2 separate regions of the Homo sapiens genome follow, and region 2 is linked to region 1. The links come from fine-mapping of genetic effects on gene expression. A gene starts in region 1. The other region holds a variant in brackets. All regions are shown on one strand. Distances are between the middles of the regions.

Evidence for each region. PIP is the estimated chance that this variant, and not a neighbour inherited with it, causes the effect.
Region 2: its variant is fine-mapped to the expression of HDHD5 in whole blood (TOPMed, PIP above 0.99).

The regions. Positions count from the first base shown.
Region 1 is chr22:17,156,816-17,161,190 of GRCh38, reverse strand. HDHD5 (haloacid dehalogenase like hydrolase domain containing 5) reads left to right here and starts at 1,914. Exons shown (of 8, transcript NM_033070.3): 1 at 1,914-2,065. The coding sequence starts at 1,940. It overlaps HDHD5-AS1 (HDHD5 antisense RNA 1), which reads right to left and starts at 1,802. Exons shown (of 2, transcript NR_024483.1): 1 at 1,354-1,802. RefSeq lists a silencer at 1,903-2,232.
Region 2 is chr22:17,118,015-17,122,389 of GRCh38, reverse strand. It overlaps TMEM121B (transmembrane protein 121B), which reads left to right and starts at 1,030. Exons shown (of 1, transcript NM_031890.4): 1 at 1,030-4,375. The coding sequence starts at 1,263. The coding sequence ends at 2,999. It overlaps LINC01664 (long intergenic non-protein coding RNA 1664), which reads right to left and starts at 795. Exons shown (of 4, transcript NR_103793.1): 1 at 351-795. RefSeq lists an enhancer at 72-603 and a silencer at 1,189-1,318. The variant C/T (reference allele first, on the strand shown) is at 2,608.

The DNA of each region.
Region 1 (4,375 bases):
CACTGCAACCTCCACCTCCCAGGTTCAAGCGATTCTCCTGCCTCAGCTTCCCAAGTAGCTGGGATTACAGGTGCATGACGAGCTAATTTTTGTATTTTTAGTAGAGACGGGTTTCGCCATGTTGGCCAGGCTGGTCTTGAACTCCTGATCTCAGATGATCCGCCTGACTTGGCCTCCCAAAGTGCTGGGATTACAGGTGTGAGCCACCGCGCCTGGCTATGCTTTTGAGGAGCCGATTGTCAAAAAAAACTGTGGGCATGTTTAAAAGCCATCATACCAAGAAATTTCTAATGACTAAATCAGTTTCTAGGTAGTTTAATAGAAGGAAGGGATTAGGAACATTGCAATCCTAGAGAGCTATGTCCCCTGGCAGGGTTTAAGTGTCGGGCTATTGTGAGTTTGACTGACTTGAATTAGTCTTCCAAATTCTGATTAGCTGTAGTTGAACTGAATTAAGATCTTGCCCTTCAAAGCTGAGGACCAAAGGACACCGCTAACTACTTCTTCATTTTATTATTATTATTATTATTTTTTTTTTTTTCAAGACGGAGTCTCACTCCGTCACCCAGGCTGGAGTGCATTGGCGCAATCTCGGCTCACTGCAACTTCTGCTGCCTGGGTTCAAGCGATTCTCCTGCCTCAGCCTCCCGAGTAGCTGGGACTTGAGGCGCCTGCCACCGCGCCTGGCTAATTTTTGCAGTTTTCAGCAGAGACGGGGTTTCACCATCTTGGCTAGGTGGTCTTGAACCCCTGACCTCCTGATCCACTCGCCTCAGTCTCCCAAAGTGCTGGGATTACAGGTGTGAGCCACCGCACCCGGCCCTATTTTATTATTTTTAAAATAGAGAAGGGGTCTCCCTATGTTGCCCAGGCTGGTCTGGAACTCCTGGACTCAAGTTTTCCTCCCACCTTGACCTTCCAAAGTTCTGGGATTACAGGGGTGAGCCACCGCACCCTGGCCTGCTAATGTGTGAGCTAGTGCAGTCTCTGTCCATATCCTCGACTCCCTCTCTGCTAGTGCTAAGTACATTGTAGGGTCCCGCGTTTTTAGCATAGCTATACCTATGAATGGGCCAAAGAATCTGAGGGCATCCTACACATTTCAAACGGTGGGAATGGAGACCTCTTTCCTCCAGCAGAATCTCCCCTCATGACCGGGGGACTACCAGATCCAGCTCTGCTAAGGGCCTCCACGGACGGAGTCGGCTACCTCTCCACTTTCAGTGACCGAAATCCATTCTTTGTTCATTCACCCTTGTGTCTACTCCGGGAAACGCGCAGCGGACACAGTCGTGTTCCCTAAGTGTTTGCTGACTTAGTCATCTGGCCCTCTCTGGAGTAGTCATTTTGTACCTTGTACTACATTCGTGCCTCTACCTCTCCGCAGTGCGCGCGGGGGCGGACTCACGTGCGCAGTCTCCCTATGCGCTGGGAGGGCGTCAGCAGGTTTACAGAAACAATGAAAGACTTAACAATTGGCGCGCGACGAGCGTCCCTTGACTGGCAGGGGCCCAGAGGACCTGAACATCACTAAGGGTCTGCCCCAGCGGCCCGGCCCTGAAGTCAAGGTTGAGACCCCCGGCCCAGACAGTCCGCGAAGCTGAGGGAGGCCGGCCTGGGGCCTGCCGCGCAATGTTACCGGGATCCGCAGGCACAGGGCGATAGTACGGACGCCGCCGCCCAGGCCGTGCCCATTGTGCGCCGCGGCCAGCTCACCGCGATCTCGGTCTAGGAGGCGGCGGGACCCCGCACTTCTTCCTTGCAACGGAGCCCCTTTGGCCTGCGGGTCGAGTTCCATAGGCGCCCGACGGGCTCCGCGCGCTTACAGGACTACAACTCCCGTGATGCCGCGCGCGCCGACCGCTGATTGGCTGTGCAGCGGACGGACTCGCGGGGGGGGGGGGCCGCACGCCGTGCACGTGCGCACGGCGACGGCCGGATGGCTGCGTGGGGCTGTGTGGCTGCGCTCGGCGCGGCGCGTGGGCTTTGCTGGCGGGCGGCGCGCGCGGCTGCGGGGCTCCAGGGCCGCCCCGCCCGCAGGTGCTATGCTGTGGGCCCCGCTCAGGTGAGGACGTCCGGGTTCTGGCCGAGCCACTCGCCACTCAGGGCCGGAGGCGGGGCGGGGAGCCGCGGGGAAGGAGGGGCGGCCGGGCTGGTATCCCAGCCTCCTGGGAACTGCCTGGACCGTCGTCGCGCCCGAGTGCATCGCGTTCTTGCTGGAGGGCGGATGCGCCCTGCCTTCCTCTGACTCGCTGGCGGCCTCGGAAACGCTACTCCCGCGGGAGAGCGCTCGTGGGACGGCCTGGGCCAGGCTGCTTGTCAGCCCCTGCGCTTCCCGGCAGTTTCCGCGTCCCTGTTTTCCCTGCGCGTCTTCTGATTTCCACCATGAGGACGTTTGGGTCGTGATTTTCATCTGCATGTGGAGGAAACTGGGCCGCGCGCCGGGAGCCGCGCCTGCGGGTGCTCCGCCCCCAAGTGCCTGTGGGTTTGGTGCGGGCCTTGGGTTCAGTTCAGCTCGCTGTGACCTCGACTGAGCGCTGGAGGCTCCGCGGGCGGGAGCAGGAGGGCTGGAGCCGGCGCCTGCTGTGTGCCCGGCGCGGTAGTGATGTGTGAGCCTCCCCGCAACTTCTGAGAAGGTGTGACCTTGTGTGGTCAGGAAGCCGAAGCTTGACGAGTTTTCAAGTACGTTTTCTCAGGTCCTGCAGCTGGGAGACGGCACAGGACACTAAACCAGGTTGGTCAGATCCACGGCTCTCACGCTCCCTTGGGCCGTTTTGCCTTTTCTGGAAAAAGGAATCACTTTGTCTTCTAAACGCACAAGTAATATTTTACATTAACATACGGATTTCACAGTAATCCTTGCATTTTTTTTTTTTAGACGGCATCTCTGTCACCAGGTTGGAGTGCAGTGGCGCAATCTCTGCTCACTGCAACCTCCGCCTCCCGGGTTCAAGCGATTCTTCTGTCTCAGCCTCCCGAGTAGCTGGGATTACAGGCACCCGCCACCACATCCGGCTAATTTTTGTATTTTTAGTAGAGACAGGGTTTCACCATGTTGGCCAGGCTGGTCTCGAACTTTTGACCTCAGATGATCCTCACATCTTGGCCTCCCAGAGTGGTGAGATTACAGGCATGAGCCAGTGCACCCGGCCAAATTACTTGCATGAAAAAAACACATAGTGCTTACTTTGTGCCAGGCACTATTCTAAGTACTTCACAGTTATTCGTATAATCTTTATAACAACTCCGAGGAAAGTACTATTATTAGTCTTCCCATTTTATAGATGGAGCAGAGGCACAGAGAGGTTAAGCAGCTTACCCAAGGGCACACAGCTGGTAAGTGGCAGAATCTGGAACTCAGGTAGTCTGGTGCCAGAGTCTAAGCTCTTAACAGCTGTATTATTTTTATGATTTTTAAATATGGAGCAGCTAAGGTTCAAAGCAGCTGAGTGACTTGGCCAGTGTCACATAGCTAGACGTGACCAAGGTGGAAGTTTGAAATTAGAATATGTTGATAAAAGGACTTACAAACTGTCAGGATATAAATATAAGGAAATATCGCCCTTATTTATAACTGTTGTATTGGCTCTAGCATCTCTGCAGAGTCCCGAAATGTCTCCAAGTGACTCTTCCGGTAGAGCAGAAAAAGAAGAATGCAGGATGACAGAGTTTGAGCACGAGCTTTAGAATTGAATCCTGTGCAGTCTGTTAGCGGCTTCACTTAAGGCAATTTACATAGCTTTCCAAGCTCAGTTTCCCCATCTATGTAATGGATCTATTACTTGTAATCCCAGCTACTCGGGAGGCTGAGGCAGGAGAAGCCCTTGAACCTGGGAGGGAGGTTGCGGTGAGCGGAGATCGGGCCATTGCACTCCAGCCCGGGCAACAGATCCTGACTCTTATCAAAAAAAAAAAAAAAGAAAATTAACCTTAGTTTAACTTTCTTGCTTTACCAAGTTTTTAATTTTTAAAATTTTTTACTCTTTTGTAATAGCACTTAGTTTAAAACACAACACATTGTACAGCTGTACTAAATATATCTTCATTTATATCATTGTTCCATAGCTTTTTTCTTTTGTGTGTGTGTGTGTGTGTGTGTGTGTGTATGTGTGTGAGACGGTGTCTAGCTCTGTTGCCCGGGCTGGAGTGCAGTGGCGCCATCTCGGTCCACTGCAACCTCTGCCTCCCAGGTTCAAGTGATTCGCCTGCCTCAGCCTCCCAAGTACGTGGGATTACAGGCGCCTGCCACCACGCCCAGCTAATTTTTGTATTTTTAGTAGAGACGGGGTTTCACTGTGTTGGCCAGGCTGGTCTCGAACTCCTGACCTCATGATCCGCCTGCCTTGGTTTCCCAAAGTATTGGGATTAGAAGCAT
Region 2 (4,375 bases), 39 kb after region 1:
CTAGTCATTTCCTTCTCCCTTAAACCCCTAAAGGCAGCACTCTACCTTCTGCCTTCCAGAGTTGCTGCATCGACATCCATCCCCAGCCTTGGATGAGTCCTGGGGTGAGCTGGTGTGCTCTCTCCTGAGACTGTCTACGCAGGGCCACTGACTGCATTCCTTCCTTGGTGTCTCTGTCTACTGTGGTGGGCTGTAACCCTCACCATCATCCCTTTGGAGCCTTTGTTTTCATCCAGGTGCCCACACCTCTAAATGCCCCTTTATTTTACTCTCTGCTAGACACATCTTCCTATTACGTCCCATTCTGCTTTAAAAACCTTTGAGAAGCCCGCTGGGCGGATGCCACTTGCCCAATCTCGTTCCCTCGTCTCTCCTCCCAGGCAGGTGTTTTCAGGGAACTTCTCCATCCGCTGGAATCGGGTCGTCCCTGAGATGGCTCGCGACCCCAGGGCTGGGTACATGGATATTTAGGACTATAGGTCTGGGGCTGCTGCCCGAGCCCTTTTTGCCAACATGGCCTGACTCCTCCACTGGTTTTTAGTGCCTTAGGGAGAGGCGGATGGCCCCATGGGAAGGGCGCTGGACGGAGGGTGGAGGCGAAGCTGCCCACTGCCTGCCTCAGAGCTGAGAAGGCCAGGTGCAAAGCCCGCCCTGTAGCTTGAGCCCATCGCTTGGGGGCACCGAAGCCATCTAGGTACTAACGCCCTGCGGTACAGCCGGTGGGATTCCCAGCGACTTCCTTAGGAGTCCGCGCTCCATGGGAGTCCCCCCGCACCGGGTCGCCTCGCCCTGGCGGCTGCCCGCGCCTCCTCCCGCTTCCTCCAGGCCACAGGGCTCCCGACCCGACTGTGACGCACTGCACCCCCGCCCCTTCTCTTCCCGTTGATCCAGCGCGCCGCGCTTTCTCCTCCTCTGGTCTCGCTGCTTCCTCTCCCCCTCGAATCCAGTCCTGGTTTCCCCGCCGCCAGCCTCCCTCCCTCCCGGCGGGACTCGCTCCCCGCCCCGCCCCGCCCCGCCCCCGCCTCGCCTGTCTTCACCGCGGTCCGCTCGGTTCACCGCCTGCCCCCTCTCCCTGCCGCCCGGCCCGGCTCGCCCAGTCCAGTGGCTCCAGTCCGGATCTCGCCGCCGCCCGGCCCAGGTGCGAGTCCCCACTGCTGGGGAGGCGGCGGGCCCCGGCTCCCCTCGGCCGCCTAGCCCGCCTCGCCCGCCCGGGGTTGGCGGGGAGGGAACAGCTGGGCGGCCCCAGAGCCCCTCGGAGGACAATGCGCCCGGCGCTCGGCCACCCTCGCTCGGTCTCCTCCGCGTCCGGTTCCTTCCCGCCGCCCCCGGCAGCCGCCCGGCTGCAGCCCCTCTTCCTCCGCGGGGGCTCCTTCCGCGGCCGGAGAGGCTCCGGCGACAGCAGCACCAGCACCAGCACCAGCCGCGGGGGAGGCGGCGGCAGACGCGGCGGGGGCGGCGGCTCCCCGAGCAGCAGCACGGGCGCCGAGCGCGAGGACGACGACGAGAGCCTCAGCGTCAGCAAGCCGCTGGTGCCCAACGCCGCGCTCCTGGGGCCGCCGGCTCAGGTGGGCGCCCCCGCCGGCCCCGCGCCTGTCGCCTTCTCCTCCTCAGCGGCCACCTCCTCCTCCACCTCCACGCCCACCTCCTCCTGCAGCATGACAGCCGCGGACTTCGGCGGGGGCGCCGCGGCCGGGGCCGTCGGGGGCCCCGGGAGCCGCTCGGCGGGGGGCGCGGGCGGCACCGGGACCGGCAGCGGCGCCTCCTGCTGCCCGTGTTGCTGCTGCTGCGGCTGCCCAGACCGCCCCGGCCGCAGAGGTCGGCGCCGCGGCTGCGCCCCCAGTCCCAGGTGCCGCTGGGGCTACCAGGCGCTGTCCGTGGTGCTGCTGCTGGCGCAGGGCGGCCTGCTGGACCTGTACCTCATCGCCGTCACCGACCTGTACTGGTGCTCCTGGATCGCCACTGACCTGGTGGTGGTGGTGGGCTGGGCCATCTTCTTCGCCAAGAACAGCCGGGGCCGTCGGGGCGGCGCAGCCAGCGGCGCGCACAACCACCACCTGCACCACCACCACGCCGCGCCGCCCCTGCATCTGCCCGCCCCCTCGGCCGCTACCGCTGGGGCCAAGGCACGCGGAGCCCGCGGGGGCGCCGGCGGCGCGGGGGGCGGCCTGGGGGCGGCCGCGGCAGCGGGCGAGTTCGCCTTCGCCTACCTGGCCTGGCTTATCTACTCCATCGCCTTCACTCCCAAGGTGGTGCTGATCCTGGGCACGTCCATCCTAGACCTCATCGAGCTACGCGCGCCCTTCGGCACCACGGGCTTCCGTCTCACCATGGCGCTGTCGGTGCCCCTGCTCTACAGCTTGGTGCGGGCCATCAGCGAGGCGGGCGCGCCCCCGGGATCGGCAGGACCCCTGCTGCTGCAGCCCCAGCGGCACCGCGCGGCCGGATGCTTCCTGGGCACGTGCTTGGACCTGCTCGACAGCTTCACGCTGGTGGAGCTGATGCTGGAGGGCCGCGTGCCGCTGCCCGCGCACCTGCGCTACCTGCTTATCGCCGTCTACTTCCTCACCCTCGCCTCGCCGGTGCTCTGGCTCTACGAGCTCAACGCCG[C/T]GGCCGCAGCGGCTGCATCCTGGGGCCAGGCCTCCGGGCCTGGCAGCTGCAGCCGCCTTCTGCGCCTGCTGGGCGGCTGCCTGGTGGACGTGCCCTTGCTGGCGCTGCGCTGCCTCCTGGTGGTCAGCTACCAGCAGCCCCTCTCCATCTTCATGCTCAAGAACCTCTTCTTCCTCGGCTGCCGGGGCCTGGAGGCCCTGGAGGGCTGCTGGGACCGGGGCAATCGGGCCTCCCCGAGTCGGGCCAGAGGGGGCTACGGTGCTCCGCCCTCCGCCCCTCCACCACCTCCGCCACCACCTCAGGGAGGCTCCCAGCTGGGCCACTGCATCTCGGAGAACGAGGGGGGTGCTCATGGCTATGTCAACACCCTGGCTGTGGCCTCTCAGAATTGAGGGTGAAGGGCACGGGTCCTTGTTTTTGGGTTGAGAGTCCCCAACCCCCTTGTCTTCTACCTTCTGTCACCTAGATTTGATCAGGGTCTATTTGGAAGAGGTAACCCTTTTCAGGGCTAAGGGCCAGGGTGTTCTTCTGCACCCTGGGGTGAGGACGGCTTGGAGGGAGACCAGCAGTTAACGGTGAGGGAGGTAGGTGCACTTACCCTCTCCTCTCTTCTCCTATCCTACCCCAATCCTGACCTCCAAGGGGCTGGTACCTCTGCTTCTTGCTTTGCCCACCTCCACTCTAATTCCCATCCATTAGGAGGAGAGGGGTGCTGGGCCTTGGACCTTCTCCCTTGCTTAGAAGTGCCAGCCTCTTTTAGGCTGTGGTTAGTGGCCATTGTCCCATGCCTTGAAATTGACCCAGAACCCACTTTCCACTGATGTGTCTCTTGGATTTCTTCCAGGTGATAGATACAAAGTGTATGTCTCTGTGTGTGTAGTGTTGTTTTCTCGTGTCCACCCTGTGGCCCTTTGCAATGGGTAGGAGATCTGGGGAGGCCCTGCCCCCTACACCATACTTATCACCACCCTCCTCTTTTCTGCCTGGATTTGTGACCATGAATTCCCAGGAAGAGCTGGGCCCCTGGGAGCTGCCCAGGTACTCCCCTTGAAGGGAGAATCTCACCCAGGATCTTCCTCAATACTGCTCCTCTCTTCTCAGCTCAGGGAGAGGAGGGGATCCATTCTCTAAGGACCAAACTGCACCCTTTCTTGGGTGAGTGAGCATTTCTACCTCCGTGCTTTCAACTTTTGTTGCATCATGCACTGATGCTGCTTGCAAAAAATGAAGACAAAATACTCAGAAGTTGCATTTGCCATGGCCACTGGCTCCAGCTGGGGTTTGGTGCCAGTGTTATTACAGGGTCTGCGGAGTATCAGCCATTGGCTTGGCCTCTCTCTGTTCCTCCCTCTGCACCTAGAACTCTTATCCTTCCTGTGGTTTGGTGCCGACTGGGTCGGATCTGGGCTTAGAGTAATAGCTTTGGTGGGTTTCCTGGATGGATGTGAAGTTGGGCCTCCCATGGGCCCAAGGGAGTAGGAAGCCCCATTCCCCACCTGTCCTTCCTCTAGGAAGTGTAGATCAGAAAGTGAGGTGGTGACCTCCCACCTCTGGTCTGGTTAAGAGTCTCACTAGGGCCAAGGCAGGCTGCAGAACTTTCCCTCTTCCTCTCATTGAGGGTGATGACAAGAGACATCCGGGGACTGTGCACTTACAGTCGGTGTGGAATGTCACTCTTGCAGTCTTTGAGGCAGGATAAGTATTTTTACATATTTTAAGGGTGCAGGAGGACAGCAGCTAACAAGGCCAGGAAATACTCACTTCCCTC